Linked DNA regions of Homo sapiens: region 2 is linked to region 1. The links come from fine-mapping of genetic effects on gene expression. A gene starts in region 1. The other region holds a variant in brackets. All regions are shown on one strand. Distances are between the middles of the regions.

Evidence for each region.
Region 2: its variant is fine-mapped to the expression of CNTN4-AS1 in whole blood (INTERVAL, PIP 0.95).

The regions. Positions count from the first base shown.
Region 1 is chr3:3,054,517-3,065,417 of GRCh38, forward strand. CNTN4-AS1 (CNTN4 antisense RNA 1) reads right to left here and starts at 6,629. Exons shown (of 4, transcript NR_046554.1): 1 at 6,551-6,629. It overlaps CNTN4 (contactin 4), which reads left to right. Exons shown (of 25, transcript NM_175607.3): 25 at 1,604-3,443. The coding sequence ends at 1,704.
Region 2 is chr3:3,038,974-3,049,874 of GRCh38, forward strand. It overlaps CNTN4 (contactin 4), which reads left to right. Exons shown (of 25, transcript NM_175607.3): 19 at 1-30; 20 at 1,064-1,298; 21 at 3,337-3,449; 22 at 4,004-4,190; 23 at 4,619-4,731. CNTN4-AS1 (CNTN4 antisense RNA 1) reads right to left here. Exons shown (of 4, transcript NR_046554.1): 2 at 3,940-4,040; 3 at 2,072-2,181; 4 at 688-1,409. Among named protein-coding and RNA genes, the nearest start is that of CNTN4-AS1, 17 kb to the right of the region's middle. RefSeq lists an enhancer at 1-339. The variant G/C (reference allele first, on the strand shown) is at 6,107.

The sequences.
Region 1 (10,901 bases):
TAGCATATTCTTTTTGAGCAAATACATTCAATTCTGTTTTTACAAATACCATGTTTGTAAGTATCTTAAGAGCATGATTTTTTTGTTGTTGTGTGTGATCTCATTTATTTAAAGAAAAAAAACAAAATAGCCAAATCCGTGGAGACAGAAGTGAGGCTAGTGATTGGCAGTGGCTGGTCAGTGGGGAATGGGGGTTTAGGCACTGGGTCTTCATTTGGGGTGACACAAAAGTTATGGAGCTTGAGAGTGGTGCTGGTTGCACAACACTGGAGTATACTTAGTACCACTGATTTGTACATTTTAAATGAGTTAAAATGCTAATTTTGTTATGTGTATTTTACAGCAATAAAAAAAAGACTGTGGTTAGATATCTAAGTGTAGACTTTCACAGGCTTTCAGATTTCAGTCTGGAGATTAGGGGAGCAGTGAAGGCTGGAGGTATAAATTTTCAAGACATTGGTAAAAAGATGATATTTTAAATTATGGACAAAATCCTCACCACCATCCTGACTTTTAGCCATGTGACATCCCTCTGCTAAGGGGTGATATGCCAGTGTTTCTGGATGGAGTTTATATTTACTGCATCTTTTTTGCATACAAACACAAAAGGCATTTTTGTCTTAAAAGGGGGACAATTGGATTATACTTTATCAAACAAAGCCTCTAACTTCTATCGAAAGGGAGCTAGATTTTTGGTGAGATGTGGAAGTAAAATCTCCAGGCCACAAAAATACAAGATTGGGGCTTATCTCGCTTCATTAAAAATCTGACTTTATACTTCATACTTTCTTATCATTGCAGGGATTGACATTTTTAGATAGACTGATGATTCCTGGTTTTATTCATTACAAAAACATATATTAAGCAATTATATTGGTGTAATTATTAGATAACAAGGAAGTGACTGTGAACCAAACATGATCTGTTTCAAGAGATTTTTCATCATGTTGGTCAAAGAGACCTTACAAGATTGAAGAACCCCCGAATGACAGTTGATAGCTTCTTACTATGAAAAGTGTAAGACCCATAAGAAAATTTAAAAAAGGATTGAGGCTATTTTGTTTGCAGAAAAGGGGTAGATTTAGACAGACATGGGTTTGAACCCCAGTTTAGCCATTTACTAGCTGGGTGATCTTAGATAAGTTACTTTATTTCTCTGGGCGCAAATTACCGCCATCTGTTAAGCGAGGTAATAATAATACCTGGCCTTCATCCAGTTTTTGCAAGATTTAAGTGTCATATTCATCTGTGCCCAGCAGAAAGATAGAGTTCAAAAGGGAGCAGCAATTTTCATTTTGTTGAATCATCGACATAGCATGCTGTTTATCAGTATTGTTACTAGTAATATTGAAGTTTCTTCTCACATTAGATAGGAACCTCCTTACTTTACAAATGCTTTGACAGAGGTACAGGGCTGTCCTATACCCTACTCCCAGGTTTGTAGCTTGGTAGTCATAGAACTGATATTTAAAAGCCATTAAGACCTTGATCATCATTTCCAGTAGAATCCATGCAGTTCTGCTGTTTCAAAAAGCCCCGTGGCCCCTCTTCCCTTTGAAGCCGGGATGGGGCTGTTTTGAGTGAATTTGTTCTCTCTTTTCAGATGCCTACGCGAGAGGATCTGGGGCTTCCACTTCGAATGCATGTACGCTGTCAGCCATCAGTACAATAATGATTTCCCTCACAGCTAGGTCCAGTTTATGACAAAAGTTATCTGAAGGACTTGCTGTTTATAATATAAGCAACATTTAGCTAGTTGTTTTGAAGACACCCAGTACTAAGTAATATTGTTGTTCAAGTACATCTTATTACTGGAATAAAAATGTTTTTTGCTTCTTTAGGAATGGCATTATACAGTACTTCCTCAAAGCAAATCTAGCTTTGTCTGAAGTTTCTTTGGAAACTCTGCAATGCACTGAAGACATCTGTAATATGATGTTACCAAAGCAGTTTACATATGTCCTTATATGCATATTTTTTATTATATATTTAGTGTTTTATAGAATTTTTTAAAGTTAACATATAATGTAGATATTAATTTTTTCCTCGGCTGTAAAATGCTATGGGCAACACAATCATGCAATTATAATTTGAAAATATTTCCTTTAAAGACAGAGTTTGAAACTCATCTTGGTAAATAAATTGCAAATTACTCGTACAGTTTTACAAGGATCTCATGGCAGAACAGCGGAAGACTTGGTCCGTAACTCAAGGCTGTTGTATGCAAACTACTCTTCTAGTGGTTAATGCACTTGACATGTACAGTATGTTTCCCATGCCGTTGTGATTTTGACATGTACAGTATGTTTTCATGCCGTTGTGAATTTTGTTGTTCAACCCAACTTGAGATGGTTTCAGGAATGGCTGCAATCTCAAAAGCTCAATGTACTGCCCAAGAGGCACCTTGTGCAATATTCCCATCCCTGAATTTAGCATTGTACAGGAAGATTTTCTTTTCACTCAACTGAGTTAGCATTGTCTTTGTGGTAGCATTATCTTAGACATTAAATTTGAAGTAACATATATCCTGTAGTAACATAGACCCAAAGTTACTATAGTCAACCAAGTCTTTCAAAGGATAAAAGATCATTTTATTATCTTTAACTGTATCTATTTTGAATGTAAATTTAAAAAAAGTAATTCTCTGTCAATGGATTCGTAATTTCTTTACAAAATTTCTTATATATAATATGTGTATCTCTGTAATAATAGAGCCCTTCTTTTGAATCAAAATTACATATGGACTTTGGAAGATTGCTCCTATTTCAACAAATAGTTGCTGCAAGAATTTTTAATATGACTCTATAAAAGCTCTTTAGTACAATTGTATGGTTTCTTGATGATTCTGTTTTGCAATAGGTAGCCTAGTTGCTTTATATGCTTTACCTTCTAGGTCTTAAAATCACACATTGGAAAATGACAATATCAACAAAACTGTATTCTTATGAAAAGAACTATTTGTTACAATGAGAAAGGTTTTGTGAGTAAACCCTACTGGACAGTGACATAAAAGGCAATGGAATTTTCTATAAACATTTTCTCATGTAAACATGCTGCCACCTTTTCTTCTTTCTCAGAGAACTCAAATTTGCTATAGTTTGTCATTTTTGCTTACAAATAATATAACTTTTCAACCTTCTAGTTATATTTATCCAATAAAGTCATAATCGGGATTCCATTTGTGTAAAAACTAGGGTGGTAACCGGAAAAAAATATTGTCAGTATTTCAAGCTGTGTTCCTTTCTTAGTTTGATATGGTTACTTCTATGTTGAAATAAAATTTAAAATCACATGCAAAAAAAAAATCAGCAAAATAATAAAATGAACGAAAAAAAATGACACCCAGGGAGTTCCCAACCCCAGTGTAAATGATATTTACCAGTGATCTAGCATATGTAATCTTTTTTAAAGGTATTGTTAATAAATATTCTGTCATTTGTAAAGATACTTGTCTTTCGGGAGCATTTTTCCTGCCTGCCTGTCAGGGAATTTGTTAGCTTACCTTTGTGCTAGTTATAATTTGGGATCATAGAGGGACTCAAAAGTCTCTACCCAAATCTAGATGACCCAGAGCTTTTCCTTTGGAATTGACAACCCTGAAGCACCATTTCAAATCCTCTTTGGAAGTAGAGAGGGTCCTAATCCACAAGTAAATGTCCTGAAGATGAGACTTGAATATTTTCTCTTGATTAGCTAAGTCTTTTGTATATTTACTGTAAGTATATCTGTTGTTTCCCTCACCCCCCATTGCTAAAAGGGTAAGTTCTAAGCTTGAGCATTTAAGGCTCTTTTTTTTTTGAGACGGAGTCTCACTCTTGTCACCCAGGCTGGAGTGCAATGTTGCGATCTCGGCTCACTGCAACCTCCGCCTCCCAGGTTCAAGCAATTCTCCTGCCTCAGCCTCCCGAGGCGCCCACCACTACACCGGACTAATTTTTGGATTTTTAGTAGAGACGAGATTTCACCATGTTAGTCAGGCTGGTCTCAAACACCTGACCTCAGGTGATCTGCCCGCCTCGGCCTCCCACAGTGCTGGGATTACAGGCTTGAGCCACCGCACCCGGCCCTTAAGGCCCTTTTTAATCCAAAACGATTTAACTGTGTATCCAGCCACAGTAAGCCCTCCCTGACCCCTGAACACTGCTTGCTTTTGGTCTCACCTCTGTGCCTTTGGTCTTATGGCTGCCCCTTCCTGAAATGCCTTCTCCACCCTTCTCTCCCATTCAGATCCCTGCTGTCCTAGGGTAGCTCCAGCCCCAGTTTGTCTGCAAAGACTTCCCATGCTTCAGTCCTTTATGACATTCTCGCTTGGAAGTAGTTGCATCCCCTATCAATGCTGCTCATTTAGTAATTAATCAGATACTACTTTTGGAAATCTCTTGTACTGTTATCTTGCATTTTAATTTAACTCCTGTATTGTTACTTACTTTTTCTTGTATGTATGGCTTGTCTTCCCAACTAGATTGTAAGCTCCTTGAGGGCAGGGACTTTGGTCTTATCTTCCATGTACTCTCCATAGTGCCTAGCACAGTGCCTTGCAATAAATACTCACTGATTAATTGAATGAAGGGGTCTTTGAAGTAGCATTTTGCATCAGTTGCCTGCCTGTGTGCCACAGCAAACCAACCAGGGAAGACTGTGTCATTACTTTCGTTATGTGCTGAAAAGCGTTAAAAGGCCTGGCTTCTAACTTTGTACCTGGAAGAAGTCTTTGACCAATTGGCTTCATCATCGGGTAAATGAGGTCCTGGATTAGTTGAGTCTAACTGAATTGAAGATGTTTTAGAAAGTGCCCCATGAGCACCTCCACCCAAACTTGTCTCATTTGTTGGCTTTCATGGTTGCCTCAGGTAGGGTCCACTGGCTGTAAGCAAAGAAACGACCCTGGGTAACTTGAGCAAACAAAAAGTAAGGAATTAGAATGACACAGGTTACATCATATGAGCCAAGGAAACACTGAAGGACCAACTCTTGAGGAGAATAAGAACCAGGCCACTCTGTGGGTCCAGACAATGGGAACTTTGGAAAGTCTTTTTGGGGTGCTATTGTGGGGATGAATCAGCTTTGTTTCCAATTTTGACGCCATTATGCTCAATATTCAGATTCCTGGGAAAGTGATCAGTTCCATTTGAGTTCCACAGCCAGAGTACCTTGTACTCACAGGGGAGGGATAGTTAAAGGAAAACTAAGATGCTGTTTTCCAAAGGTAAGAGAAGAAATGCTGGGTTGGTATAAGTAACAGATTTTCTAGGCTTAGCCAGCCAAGGGGACTTTCTTAGGCCCTTAGCCCAAGTAATACACTCGAGTGGAATGACTATATTGCTGCTTGAGATTTTTTTCTGAAGGAGGACCACTAGGAAAATTTGCTTTGCTTGTTTAACCTTTCAAAGTGCTTACTCTTGCCCTCCTTTTTGTGTGTGTAGTCCACTTGTGATTTAACTGTATGAAAGGAAATTCTATTGTGCCAGATATTTGGATTCTCTCAGTGTACCTACTTTCTATGGAGCCCACACATGCTACATACAAAGCAGCACCTTTCCATGGGCACAGAAGACATGGATGATAAGCTTCATTTCTCAGGTAAGCTCTGAATTCTTCCAGCCTGTGAGGTAGAAGGTGCATAGACTTTGATATTAAGAAAGAATGATTGTGTTATTCCCACCATCAAAATTGTGGTTGTTTATATCCAGGAGGCAATGTTAAATCCTGATTAACCTTTACCCAGTCTCTTCCACCACCTTGCCTCACTACAAATATGCGCAAAGAATGTTGAGTTATAAAAAGTATACAAATAGCACATAATTAGCAACAAAAATGTCATGCAGTTTTTAATCTAATGTAATCAACCAACAGGTGATTTTTGTTCACTACATTGGATTATCGATGCTACTGTTCTCCTCCGTTAACACTTATAATCAAGAAGTGACTGTTATTTTCCTGTTGTTACAATTTACAAAATGTTCTGGCTAAAAACGTTATGTGGCCAACCATAGTGCTTTGAAAGGCAAGCCTTTAAAATCAAGGACTTATATTCAATCTGTGGACATACCCCAGATTTTTCCATTACAAAATGCCAGACACTGAGGCCTTACAAAGGCAGCCTAATACAAAGACTAAGGACGTGGATCCTGGAGTTTGACTGCCTGGGGTGCATTGTAATGATTGGCTACTTATTAGGGAGGATAAAGTTTGTAAAGCTCTCCAAACAGTGATGATTTTACCGTCTGTTATTGTTCTTTTTCTCCAGGGACTTTACTAGACCCACAGATGTAGGATGTGGATGCTTCTTATCACCAAAATGAGTGGAACTCAGCTGACACATCCATTATCACCTTTTATTTAAACATGATCACTTCTTAATATAAATTTTAATGTTCGATAATTTTAATCATACAATCAACTAATTCAAACTTAGGCAGTAGGGTTCCCATTCAGATGCCAGGTTTTGCACAAAGCCTCCCTCAGCTTCCCCATCTGAAATTGACCTTGCATTTCTCTGACCTCCAGGGGATGGGGTCTGTACCCACTCATGTCAGTCATCCCTTCGTACCTTATATTTAAATCATTTTTGTTGGTGTCTTCCGCCTTATAGTAGACACACGGCACCTCAGCGTTGGCATCTGGGTGTGGTTCCTCATTGTGCTCCCAGGCACAAGGCCTGTGTCACCTCCATCTCAGACCTAGAGGGAGGAGAATATCTGGCCCCGTTTCCTGTGATTTCCTCAGGCCCCCTGCCAGAGTGTGATTAGTAAATGCAAGTCAGGCTGCCCATTCTGCAAAGAGGCCCCGTTTCCCCTTGTGCTAAATGGGCCATGCGGATTAAATGTTCCAGCTCTGCAACTCACCTGCAAACTACAATACTCAACAGAGATCACAGTTTAAACAAAATTGGCCTCTATCCTTTATCACAAGCAGTTATGGGCCATGGTAGATTAGCAGAGCTCTAGTGATATAGATCACATAGAGAGAAAGCTTTTTTTAAAAAAGGTCAACCATATGATCGATCTGAAAGTCTGGAAATTGGAAGGCTGAGCTACTTAAATATAGATGCAATTACATGTGATATCCCCATTCTCTGTAAACTGGGTTTTTGCCACATATCCTTATTGTTAGGAATAACACGAACTATACCAGGAAATATATATGTCCTAGGACTTTAACAAATAGTAATATCTTTAATTTGTTTTTCTAGTTTTCAAAGTGCTTTTCACACTAATAAGGGGAGGACATAGGTTTTTATTCCTTTTTTATTTATGAAATGGAAGCAAAGAGGTTATATAAGAAGCCCAAAGTAACATAGACAATTAGAAAGTCAGGGCTGGGCATGGTGGCTCACACCTGTAATCCCAGCACTTTGGGAGACTGAGGTGGGGGGATCACAAGGTCAAGAGTTCGAGACCAGCCTGGCCAACATGGTGAAACCCCATTCCTACTAAAAATACAAAAATTAGCTGGGCATGGTGGCACGTGCTTGTAGTCCCAGTTACCCAGGAGGCTGAGGCAGGAGGATTGCTTGAACCTGGGAGGCAGAGGTTGTAGTGAGCTGAGATTGCCCTACTGCACTCTAGCCTGGGCAAGAGAGTGAGACTCTGTCTCAAACAAAAGAAAAAAAAAAAAAGAAGGACTAGAATTTAGAACATAGACTCATTAGTGCATTTCATACACCTAGAAATAAGTACTTAGAGAAAGGACAGGATGGAGTAAGGAACTAGACTCTGAAGTTCAACTAGAGAACATTCTAGGACAAGTAGGTAGGCCAGAGGAAATGGTGAGGTAGAAGGGTGAGATGTCTGAGGTTCAGATGCTGGAGGTGGAGAAGTTCTGAGTGCCGGCCAGGCCCAGGGCACAGCCATCTGGAGGAATGGGATAGGATAGGTGCCTGGAGAGGGTTTTAGTTATTCAGCAAGGGACTACTGGCAGCCCTCTCTGTACCAGGCACTATTCTGGGCATAGAAGAATGATGTGGCATTCAGATGTGTGTGAGGAAGCCAAGGCACCAGTAACAGTATTTTGTCACAATACAGAGAAATGCAATGATAATAATAATAGTAAACAGTGATTATGCTTATAATATGTGCCAGACTCAGTGCAAATCAACCTACCGATTTAGTTACCATTTATTATTCCTATTTTATACACAGAGGATTGAGGTTGACAGGTTCACATTTGTCCCTGATCACACAGTTGATCAGAGAGACCAGGAATTGAAATGCTGGTGGCTTGGGTTTAGGGCCCTACTCCAAAACATTAGATGTCTCTATCTGTAAATAGATGATACATAAACAATAAGGTAGGTAGATAGATAAATAGACAGATAGATACGGTTCCCATATAGCAACAAGAAGGAAAGGCAGTCATGAGCTTCAGTCTGCTCTAAAGTGGCTCAGCTTCTCTGCTTCTCTTTCCTTGACTGCAAATGTTGTTTTTTGCGTGTTCGTTGTCCTTGACTTCAGGTGTCTTAGAGCTGTTTCTTTAAACTCCGGCTACCCTTCAAGATCAGGATTACCCAATAAAATAGGAGAGGAGCTATTAAACTTAGATTTCAGATAAAAAAAAAATTATGCTTCCTTAGTATAAGTATGCCCCATGTGATATTTATTTGAAATTCAACTTTAACTGAGCCTCTTATTTTTATTTGCTAAATCTGGCAACCTGACACCAGGAGGTCTTCATTACTCTCATTGAAGTAATTAATTTGTAATTCAAAATTTCAGGGTCTTGCGAATGTGTTGTCAGATCTCTGAAGGTCAATGGCTCTGAGGGCGAGACATGAAGTTTGCTGTTTTGAGTTCTGTTTCGTTTGCTGAACTCTCCTTCCCACTTTTCCTTGGATGGTGTGAGGATGGGATGTGTGTGTGTCCAGAGAGACAGGGCTGGTGGGTGAAGTTCCTCTTAGAGCTGGCAGAAAAGAGGTTTTGTTTTTTTTTTGTTTGTTTTTTGAGACGGAATTTTGCTCTTGTTGCCCAGGATAGAGTGCAATGGCGCAATCTCGGCTCACTGCAACCTCCGCCTCCCGGGTTCAAGTGATTCTCCTGCCTCAGCGTCCTGAGTAGCTGGGATTACAAGCATGCGCCGCCACGCCTGGCTAATTTTGTATTTTTAGTAGAGACGGGTTTCTCCATGTTGGTCAGGCTGGTCTCGAACCCCTGATCTCAGGTGATCCACCCACCTTGGCTTCTCAAAGTGCTGAGATGACAGGCGTGAGGCACCGCACCCAGCCCAGAAAAGAGTTTTAAGACAAGGGAATCTTTCCCCAGCAAAGGCCCACATTATGTGGCAAGAAGGTGTTAAAGCAGGTGGAAGGGATTCCAGAAATATTCTGAAAGCTTAAAAAAATGGGTTTGTTGCCAGGAACATAGGCCACAGCACAGCTCGTTGGAAAACTATGTAGTGGACGCATCGTTTATCAACTGCAGTGTTGGGACCAAATATCCGAGACCAAATAACTGGCAGTTAGAATTGGCCCAGTTGTTCCTCTTGAATTTAGTGGTTAACAAATAAGATATTGAGTGCATACTATGTGTCAAGCACTTGCTGGGCACTGGAGAAACTGAGATAAATAGGGTTAAGGCTTCCCTCATGGTTCACTGAAGGAGACAGAAATACACTTATTGAAGGATGGTGTGAATAGTGTGACAGATAAAGGTATGAACACAATGCTGGACCTGTGTTTCTTGCAAAACCTACTTATAATGAGGTTAAGTTCAGTCAAACACAATTTTTTTTACCATTGATCCCCCAGGATAGAATATTTTCATTTGATTAAACATGATTATTTTCCCAAATTGGTTGCTTTTCTTAAAAAAAAGAAAAACACATTCATAAATATTTTGAATCCATTAAGCCATGTGTCAATATTGGCCCTCTGGGAAAATCTAGCTCATTGCCCGCTTTTTTTGTAAATCAAGATTTATTGCAACATAGCCATGCTGATTTATAGATTGCCTACGGCCACTCTGTGCTATCACGGAAGAACTGAGTGGCTGCCACAAAGACCATATGGTCCTCAAAGCTGAAAATATTTACTATCTAGCCCTTTAAGAAGAGTTTGCTGGCTCGTGCCTGTAATTCCAACACTTTGGGAGGCCAAGGGCTGGATGATCACTTGAGCCCAGTAGTTCAAGACCAGCCTGGGCAACATGGGAGACCCTGTGTCTACAAAAAAATTTTATAAATTAGCTGGGCATGGTGGCACACCCATGTGGTCCCAGCTACGCGAGAGGCTGAGGTGGGAGGATCATTTGAGCCCGGGAGGTCGAGGCTGGAGTGAACGGTGATCACAGCACTGCACTCCAGCCTTTCCAGCCTGGGTGAGACAGGAGACCCTGTCTTAAAAAAAAAAAAAAAAAGGCAGCAGCAGCTTGCCGACCTTTAAACTACGACACCAGTACTTTATTGCTGATTTCGTTCTTGCAATTTTCCCCTCAGGTTTCTGTGTTCTTCCAGTTTATTACTTGGCAGGGACAAATCTTTGCTTTTAATTTTAATAAATGAAACAAACCTAATAAAACACCTTCAAGTTGAAAAGAGTCCGCTAGAACTTTAAAATCATGCACATGGGCCATATGGGCGGCTTTGTGTTGCTCCTGACAACCAACAACGCAGATGTCTACTGAGAGCCAAATGGTGGGTGATGCCGGCCGCGGAGGTGGAGGGCAGCGTTTCTGAGACCAGCATCACACCCACTGTGAGTTTTTACTACTTCATTAATTTAAGCTCCAGTGACGATTTAACTTCTGCTATAACCACACAGCTTTAATAAATGAACCTACCATTAGAACATAGTTCTTTAGAATCTATATTGTTTTCCGTTCTTTTAAATGTTTAATAAGCTCACTTCCTTTTCCTTCGTCTGGTTACTCAACCAGCAGTCAGTTCCTCCTTGGGGCTTATGGACACAA
Region 2 (10,901 bases), 16 kb before region 1:
AGCAAATCTGAACTGGTTATAACCTGGGAGGTAAATGAATCACAGAATAAAAGGAACGTACACGCATCGAAGCTATTTTATTATTTTCCTCCATGTTAGACATAGCTGGGAAGTTTCCTCCTCTGTTTTTAACAGTGAAAATTCATTTGGGTTCAGACACTCCCTCTCACGTAGCTAATGGCTAGCAGGAAGGACGGCACTTGCCCATCCATTGTTGAGGCAAGTTTTAATTCAATCCATCACAGTAAAAACAATTATGAAGGGAAGACAACACACGTTACAAAAAAAAATAAAGAAGGCTGTTTCAGAGAAAACTAGTTTTTCTTTTCTTCCTGAATTGCTGCATGGCCAATTGATTTAAAACGTCTGCCAGCAATAGATTCAGTGCACCAGCACAATTTCCTGGCAATTGGCTTTGCTTCTAGAAGGGGCCCTCTTTTAGGAGGTATTTTTTAAAACAACCTGGAGGAAAGTTAGTCACCAATTTATTAAAAATTGGCTTTGAGAGAAGAGGTGGGAGCTTTAGAAAGGGTTCTTCATGTTTTTGAAAGATTCTAAACAGCCCCAGAAATTAAAATCTCTCATTTACCCAAAGCACAGCAGTGAAAGAAATCACTCATCCCTCCAGCTGAACTCTTCCCTCTGAGAGGGAGGATCTTCAGCCAAGATGGTTTTTCTTCCTTCAGTGAGATCTTTTGTCTATTTGGCAATGGAAGAAGATTAGTATTAGAGGATACGTGTTGGAAATGTGGTTTTTCAGGAGACCGATGTCCAGTGTTTTTTTTTTTACAATCATTTCCAACCATTTCAGAGCTGGGTCTGCCCCATCAAAGAGCAAGCTCTGGACTGCAGATCCTCATTACGTTTTCAACCCTGTCCAGTACATCATAACTGTTTAAGATAGACTGACTGCAAGCCCTAAATTTAAAAGACTGTTAACAAAACGCCAAATAAGATGGGTGGAGAAGGATGTAGACAAGAATGTTACAAGGGAAACAAAAACGATTTTTGCATTTGAGTGAAACTACTGTGATTTCTGAAGACCACCTTCCTTCTTTCCCAGACGGTCCCTGAGGAATTACAGAATGGTCGAGGCTTTGGTTATGTGGTGGCCTTCCGGCCCTACGGTAAAATGATCTGGATGCTGACAGTGCTGGCCTCAGCTGATGCCTCTAGATACGTGTTCAGGAATGAGAGCGTGCACCCCTTCTCTCCCTTTGAGGTTAAAGTAGGTGTCTTCAACAACAAAGGAGAAGGCCCTTTCAGTCCCACCACGGTGGTGTATTCTGCAGAAGAAGGTATCGTTTATGCTGCCTAGATCATTGACTGTTAATATTTCTTCAATTCTAAAATGTGGATTGTAGCACGTACAATCAATTTCGCATGGTACATGTATCTTGAAGGCATACCTGATTTGAGAAGAGGATAATGTAAACAATTTGGTTCGCTGTCCACCATGAATCTCTTGAAAAGATAGCGACTGCTCTGTATATGAAAACACTTGGCTGTCCATTATTGATTCCATTGCTAAGGACCAGAATTGCAAATACCATATAAGATCTTCATATCTATCTATATGTTATCATTACTTTCAAAAGAATTTTATTTTTGCCTTTAAGTGAATATCAAAATATAATTTGCATTTTCTTACCACTTGTATTTTCATAAAGCATATGGTACTTGTGGCTCACACCTGTAATCCCAACACTTTTGGGAGGCCAAGGCGGGTGGATCACCTGAGGTTGGGAGTTCGGGACCAGCCTGACCAATATGGAGAAAACCCATCTCTACTAAAAATATAAAATTAGCCAGTTGTAGTGGCACATCCCTGTAATCCCAGCTACTCAGGAGGCTGAGACAGGAGAATCACTTGAACCCAGGAGGCGGAGGTTGCGGTGAGCCGAGATCGCACCACTGCACTCCAGCCTGGGCAACAAGAGCAAAACTCCATCTCAAAAAAAAAAAAAAATCTCACTTATTAAAGAAAAGAGTAAGTCATGAAGCAGTGTGATTGCGCTCACTGTCATCCACACCATCATTATGTTTAACATTTCTCACACATTATTATCACCTCCATGCTATCCCTGCTCTCGGGATGCCTCTCACACAGTCTTCGTTACCTTTGGAGTTCGTCTATGTTGTTTTAAAGATGATGCTCAGAATGGGACCATGTTAAAACATCTGAAAGGTGAATCATTGATTTAGAGTCAGTGAAGATGCAATAACTTATTCCCAATCAGAGAGATCATCCCCTTAGACTCAGTAGCCCTCCATGATCTAGCTGCTGCCTCTCTGTCTGCCTCAGCTGCTGATGCCTTTCCCTGCATATTTCATGTTCCAACCATTGCCAAAGGATTTACAATTATTCAAACAAGCTTCAGCCCTTTTCATAGCCTTCAACTTCTCTTAGATAATAGTTCATGTCTCTGGATTATGAAAATGAGAGGAAAAGGGGAAAAGGACAGTCAGCTGACTTGACTAAGATTCAAGAGAGCTGGATGACACTTCAGGTTCACACTGCAATCTGTATGATCTTGGATAACTCAGGTATACTCTGTGGGCCTCAGCATCTTTGGCTGCAAAGGAGAGGCTAGACTGACTGTTTCCCAAATTTCAGTTATTTTTGCCAGATTTCTGCCATAGCTGTGTACCATTTGTATATGTTCACATTTTTCTTTCAATAGTCTTCCTTAAAAAAAATTTAGTGGGCAAGCACAGTGGCTCATGCCTGTAATCCCAGCACTTTGGGAGGGGGATGTGGGAGGATAGCATGAGCCTAGGAGTTTGAGACCAACCTGGGCAACATAGCAAGATCCAAGTCTTTACAAAAAAACATTAGCCAGGCGTGTTGGCACATGTGTGTGTGGTCCCAGCTACTTGGGAGGCTGAGGCGGGAGGATGGCTTGAGCTCAGGAGGTCAGGCTGCAGTGAGCCATGATTGTGCCACTACATTCCAGCCTAGGTGACAGAGTGAGACCCTATTTCAAAAAAGAAAAAGAGAAGCAGTTTAGCCATGTCGTAAGCAATAACATTTGTGAGATGCTAATTAAGAAGGATCTGTGTTAAGGGAATTGCTGGCTATGAAAACTTGGTGCTTAAACTTAAGTGGTTCTTCTCTTCTACCCACACCTAAATTCAGAACCCAAACACTGGACAAATATTCACTACCACCAACTCCAGCTATTAATCACTGCCCCTCTGCAAAATGAGGGTTTGGCTTACAATCATTAAGGACGATTCTATAACCATGAATTATTTTACCTTATAATGCTAGTATCTACAATCCTGTCCTAATATAGCTGATAGAGTAATAACTATCTCCATATTCATCTACAGAACCCACCAAACCACCAGCCAGTATCTTTGCCAGAAGTCTTTCTGCCACAGATATTGAAGTTTTCTGGGCCTCCCCACTGGAGAAGAATAGAGGACGAATACAAGGTTATGAGGTAGGCAAGACATATGTGCCTTGGGTCTGAAAGAGAGTCTATGCCCCTTGATAAGTCCTCCAAGTCACATTCTTATAGGAAGAGACCCACATTCCCACTAAGAGGCATTGGTTTTAGGCCTGGCTTCCAGCTGAACATTAATGGAAGCATTGAATACTCAGCTGTGAGACTACCCTTTTTCTATGTTATATTCTAGAGGTATTTTTCGAATTATATGCAAATCTAAGCATTTACGGGATGGTTGGCAAAATGAGCTTTGACTTCTGATATGCCCAGGATCACTTTGACTCAAAACAAACATGGGAAAAAAGAAAATAATGAACGACGGTTGTGTCAATGTACCGTCTCACTAGGAAGCTAAGGACAAAAAAGGGACCCTTCTTACTTTGGATAATTTCTCAGGATATACAGAGTCCTTTGTCCTGATAGCTCTGCTCATGATGTAGTATAGAAAACTAACTCCATCATAAGAATCTGCGTACAAAATTACCTGATGACATTGCAAATATCCCCATTGGGTATGGTTTCCAAGGTCTTTCTGTTTATCTTCTTAGGTTAAATATTGGAGACATGAAGACAAAGAAGAAAATGCTAGAAAAATACGAACAGTTGGAAATCAGACATCAACAAAAATCACGAACTTAAAAGGCAGTGTGCTGTATCACTTAGCTGTCAAGGCATATAATTCTGCTGGGACAGGCCCCTCTAGTGCAACAGTCAATGTGACAACCCGAAAGCCACGTAAGAACAGACTTGCTCAGAAATATTTTGGGGATTCATCACACATATCCCAAGTTTATTCCTTATCCCCACCTCCCAATGATCATTTGCATACTAATTAGTAGCATGTGGATTCAAATTTCCCTCAGCATTTTAACTGAACCTTTCCGTATACCACGCAAAATTCATTGCTGTGGAGGACAGAAAGATAAATGTTTTTCTCCTCACTGGGAAGGGCTACTTCTTTTAGCTATAAATGTTAGGCGACCAACTGAATCTTTTTCCATTTGCAATGCTGTATCTCATCAGATTTTAGTGACCTTGAAGACACATATTAGTGCAATAGCCCATTAAATTGCCTCCACTCTCGAATTCTAGTAAGGAGATATTCCTCAGAATCCATTGAGACTTAATAATCTGTGACTTCGTATATCTTAATTTTTTTATAGCACCAAGTCAACCCCCCGGAAACATCATATGGAATTCATCAGACTCCAAAATTATCCTGAATTGGGATCAAGTGAAGGCCCTGGATAATGAGTCGGAAGTAAAAGGATACAAAGTAGGTAATTTCTTTTTTGCAAAGGCACCTAATCGTGCTGTGAGTGGGGGCAGTCTCCTCCATGAATTATACAGTTGTCTGCATTGTCAGTTTCCCTGGTGATGCTCTCCTACCCTCTAGGAATCGCTGCCTCCAACACGGTTTGATCTGAGTTGTATAAATAGTCTATGGCAATTGGTCAGGATTTAGACAATCACCTTAACTTTAGTCTCAGGCAGCATCAATCAGAAATGGATAAAGACCCTGTGTTTGGGTCTCCAAAAATACCCTGAAGAACCACTTTTTAAACATTCCTACTGTCAGCTTCGTTTTGCTCCTGTCTCGGTTTATATATATTTTTTAGTCAACTTAGTAGCCTCCTGATATTACCAATGATTAATCATTTTTGTTCGTATGTTTCTATAGTCAAGAGTTATATAAAGAAAAAGAGAAAAGAGAGAAAAAGCAGGAAAAGTGGAGAAAATGTTTGCCTGACCCCATAAATGTTGGCTTGTCTTTAATGAGAAAATGAAAAGAACATGTCTGTAGCCTTCTTGCAGCAATCAAAAAGGGTTATAAATATCTTGCAACGTTTCCAGCTACCTATTTGCTACCTAACAAACCAACCTGAAGCTAGGGGCTAAAACAGCAACAGTGTATCATTTTTTATGACTTTGCAATGTGGATAGGGCCAGAATGGACAGATTTTAGGGCTGGAATAACTAAGATGCTTCTTCACACACTTTTGGCTTCTTGGATGGGATAGGTGGGAAAGCTGAGGCTGGCCAGTGATCATGCTCTCTATGAGGCCTTTCCCCACGGATAACCTGGGCTTCCTCACAGTATGGTGACCTCAGAGTAGTCGGATTTCTTACATAGTTGTCAGCTTCAAGAGGAAGAAAGCAGAAGCTGCCAGCCCTTTTAAAAGCTAAGGATGGACGTGGGCAGTTCCAAGATGGCCAAATAGGAACAGCTCCAGTCTATAGCTCCCAGCGTGAGCAACGCAGTAGACTGGTGATTTCTACATTTCCAACTGAGGTACTGGGTTCATCTCAATGGGGCTTGTCGGACAGTGGGCGCAGGACAGTGGGGGAAGTGCACCGAGCATAAGCTGAAGCAGGGCGAGGCATCGCCTCACCTGGGAAGGGCAAAGGGTCAAGGAATTCCCTTTCCTAGCCAAGCAAAGCTGTGACAGACAGCACCTGGAAGATCAGGGCACTCCCACCCTAATACTAATACTGCGCTTTTCCAATGGTCTTAGCAAACGGCACACCAGGAGATTATATCCCATGCATGGCTCAGAGGGTCCCATGCCCGGCTCAGAGGGTCCCATGCCCACAGAGCCTTGCTCGTTGCTAGCACAGCAGTCTGAGATCGAACTGCAAGGCAGCAGTGA[G/C]GCTGGGGGAGGGGGCGCCTGCCATTGCTGAGGCTTGAGTAGGTAAATAGCGGCCTGGAAGCTCAAACTGGGTGGAGCCCACTGCAGCTCAAGGAGGCCTGCCTGCCTCCTTGCCCTCTGGGGGCAGGGCATAGCCAAACAAAAGGCAGCAGAAACCTCTGCAGACTTAAATGTCCCTGTCTGACAGCTTTGAAGAGAATAGTGTTTCCCCCAGCACGGAGTTTGAGATCTGAGAATGGACAGACTCCCTCCTCAAGTGGTTCCCTGACCCCCGAGTAGCCTAACTGGGAGGTACCCCCCAGTAGGGGCAGACTGACACCTCACACAGCCAGGTACCCCTCTGAGACAAAACTTCCAGAGGAACGATCAGGCAGCAACATTTGCTGTTCAGCAATATTTGCTGTTTTGCAGCCTCCGCTGCTGAAACCCAGGCAAACAGGGTCTGGAGTGGACCTCCAGCAAACTCCAGCAGACCTGCAGCTGAGGGTCCTGACTGTTAGAAGGAACACTAACAAACAGAAAGGACATCCACACCAAAACCCCATCTGTACGTCACCATCATCAAAGACCAAAGGTAGATAAAACCACAGATATGGGGAAAAAATAGAGCAGAAAAACTGAAAATTCTAAAAATCAGAGCACCTCTCCTCCTCCAAAGGAACGCACCTCCTCACCAGCAATGGAAAAAGCTGGATGGAGAATGACTTTGATGAGTTGAGAGAAGAAGGCTTCAGATGACCAAACTTCTCCGAGCTAAAGGAGGAAGTTCGAACCCATCCCAAAGAAGTTGAAAACCTTGAAAAAAGGTTAGACAAATGGCTAACTAGACTAACCAATGTAGAGAAGTCCTTAAATGACCTGATGGAGCTGAAAACCATGGCACGAGAACTACATGACGAAGGCACAAGCTTCAGTAGCCAATTCGATCAGCTGGAAGAAAGGGTACCTGTGATGGAAGATCAAATGAATGAAATGAAGCAAGAAGAGAAGTTTAGAGAAAAAAGAATGAAAAGAAACGAACAAAGCCTCCAAGAAATAAGGGACTATGTGAAAAGACCAAATCTACGTCTGATTGGTGTACCTGAAAGTGACGGGGAGAATGGAACCAAGTTGGAAAACACTCTGCAGGATATTATCCAGGAGAACTTCCCCAGCCTAGCAAGGCAGGCCAACATTCAAATTCAGGAAATACAGAGAATGCCACAAAGATAGTCCTCGAGAAGAGCAACTCCAAGACACATAATTGTCAGATTCACCAAAGTCGAAATGAAGGAAAAAATGTTAAGGGCAGCCAGAGAGAAAGGTCAGGTTACCCACAAAGGGAAGCCCATCAGACTAATAGCGGATCTCTTGGCAGAAACTCTACAAGCCAGAAGAGAGTGGGGGCCAATATTCAACATTCTTAAAGAAAAGAATTTTCAATCCAGAACTTCATATCCAGCCAAACTAAGCTTCATCAGTGAAGGAGAAATAAAATCCTTTACAGACAAGCAAATGCTGAGAGATTTTGTCACCACCAGGCCTGCCCTAAAAGTGCTCCTGAAGGAAGCACTAAACATGGAAAGGAACAGCCAGTACCAGCCTCTGCAAAAACATGCCAAATTGTAAAGACCATTGATGCTAGGAAGAAACTGCATCAACTACCGAGCAAAATAACCAGCTAACATCATAATGACAGGATCAAATTCACACATAACAATATTAACCTTAAATGTAAATGGGCTAAATGCTCCAATTAAAAGACACAGATGGCAAATTGGATAGAGTCAAGACCCATCAGTGTGCTGTATTCAGGAAACCTGTCTCACGTGCAGGGACACACATAGGCTCAAAATAAAGGGATGGAGGAAGATCTACCAAGGAAATGGAAAACAAAAAAAAGGCAGGGGTTGCAATCCTAGTCTCTGATAAAACAGACTTTAAACCAACAAAGATCAAAAGAGACAAAGAAGGCCATTACATAATGGTAAAGGGATCAATTCAACAAGAAGAGCTAACTATCCTAAAAATATATGCACCCAATACAGGAGCACCCAGATTCATAAAGCAAGTCCTGAGTGACCTGCAAAGAGACTTAGACTCCCACACAATAATGACGGGAGACTTTAACACCCCACTGTCAACATCAGACAGATCAACGAGACAGAAAGTTAACAAGGATATCCAGGAATTGAACTCAGCTCTGCACCAAGCAGACCTAATAGACATCTACAGAACTCTCCACCCCAAATCAACAGAATATACATTCTTCTCAGCACCACATCGCACTTATTCCATAATTGACCTCATAGGTGGAAGTAAAGCACTCCTCAGCAAATGTAAAAGAATAGAAATTACAACAAACTGTCTCTCAGACCACAGTGCGATCAAACTAGAACTCAGGATTAAGAAACTCACTCAAAACCGCTCAACTACATGGCAACTGAACAACCCGCTCCTGAATGACTACTGGGTACATAACGAAATGAAGGCAGAAATAAAGATGTTCTTTGAAACCAACGAGAACAAAGACACAACATACCAGAATCTCTGGGACACATTCAAAGCAGTGTGTAGAGGGAAATTTATAGCACTAAATGCCCACAAGAGAAAGCAGGAAAGATCTAAAATTGACACCCTAACATCACAATTAAAAGAACTAGAGAAGCAAGAGCAAACACATTCAAAAGCTAGCAGAAGGCAAGAAATAACTAAGATCAGAGCAGAACTGAAGGAGATAGAGACACAAAAAACCATTCAAAAAATCAGTGAATCCAGGAGCTGGTTTTTTGAAAAGATCAACAAAATTGATAGACTGCTAGCAAGACTAATAAAGAAGAAAAGAGAGAAGAATCAAATAGATGCAATAAAAAATGATCAAGGGGATATCACCACCCTTGAGAGTGGGTAACAGGGTTAGACCAGATGGTAGGAAAGGACACTTTCTGAGTTCTTCTTAATTTCCAGCTCAGTCACTCCCCCTTCTTTTTAGGAGTGGTACTGGAAGAGCCAGACACCCTACACCTCCTCAACTACACCCCAAGGAAGGTCACTGTAACTGGCTATACATTTTGAATTGCTACATATACATGTGAATGTTTAGAGATACATAATTTAAAGCTACAGGTATCCACAGGTTCCATACTCTCAAATGTGGATCAAAAATATTCAGGAAAAAAAACACACAAAAAAATACAATGAAAATGACACAGATTTTAAAAACAATACAGTATAACAACTATTTACATACCATTTACATTATATTAGGTATTATGAGTAATCTAAAGTTGATTTAAAGTATACGGAAAGATATGCTTAGGTTATACACAAATTCTATACCATTGTATATCCAGGACTTGAGTATCCACAGATTTTGGTATTTTAGGGAGGTCCTGAAGCCAGTTCCCTGAATTACCAAGGTACCAATGAATAACTCTCTCTCTTTCTCTCTCTCTCTCTGTGTGTGTGTGTGTGTGTGTGTGTGTGTATTTGTGTGTGTGTATGTGTGGTACCTCCCGTGATATCTCACGTCCCATGATAGCTCAGGAAACTCTCCCTAGTGTCACTTTTAGGGTGAGATTAGAGGCTGAATAAAAAGCGGATCTGATTGCAACGGAAGAGTTGACCTTTGCTAGAGAATTTGACCCATTAAATATGGCTATTGTTTATCTCAGACTGACCCTTTCCAAAATTAAGTTTTCCTCCCAAATACTGAACATGTTGGGGTGTGGGTTTATTTTCCCTTCTTCACTAAGTTGTCTGAATTCTTTAGATCTCAGCTTAGGTAGACAGTCTCAACAAGAAGCTGACTTTAGAAAGTTTAAGGCCCCAAATATTTTGTCAACACAAATCCTTAAGCTACTTTATGGCATTAGAGCTAAAAGGAGAGCATCTGGTTTTAGTATCACAAATTAAACTACCTGCAGGGCCAGGCAGATAACATAAATGAGTTCTGTTCAGTCCATTCAGAAACTACTACTAATACGTCTACTAAGCACTGTTCCAATTCATCTTAACTTTATATTTTATTTTGTTGTATTTTGAGACAGAGTCTCCCTCTGTCACGCAAGGTGGAGTGTAGTGGTACAATCTTGGCTCACTGCAACCTCCGCCTCCAGGGTTCAAGCAGTTCTCCTGCCTCAGCCTCCCAAGTAGCTGAGACTACAGGCGCCCACCACCACGACTGGCTGATTTTTGTATTTTTAGTAGAGATGGAGTTTCACCATGTTGGCCAGGCTGGTCTTAAACTCCTGACCTCAGGTGATCCGCCTGCCTCAGCCTCCCAAAGTGCTGGGATTACAGGCATGAGCCACCATGCCTGGCCTCATCTTAACTGTATAATAACCATGAAGATAGGTACAGTTATTATTGCTAGTTTTACGGATGAAGAGCTGTGGCATAGAGTTTAGTCACTTGCCTTTCACACAGCTGGTATGTTGAAGACCTGGGATCCGAATACAGCAGTATGGATCCTGAGTTCTACATTTAGCCACTTGGTGCTTCTGCCTACCAGCCATAAATAAATAGAATAAGTGATAACAAAGTACTGCAGAGAAAAAGAGGCTAGAGTGAGGGGAATAGAGAAAGCCATGGAGTGGACAGGAGAGATGTATTATTTTATAGAAAGGCCAAGGAAAGCCACTTTTAAGTGGTGAGATTTCAGTTGGGCCTTGGCACCTCTCTGGGAATGTCCCAAGTACTGCAAAAAAGGAAGTGCAAAGGTCCAGAGGTAGGCATGTGACAATGTAGCAACATTGGAAGTGTTGGGACTATCACCAACTGCAGAGTTTGTGATTGTTCAGAATGAGACTTCTCA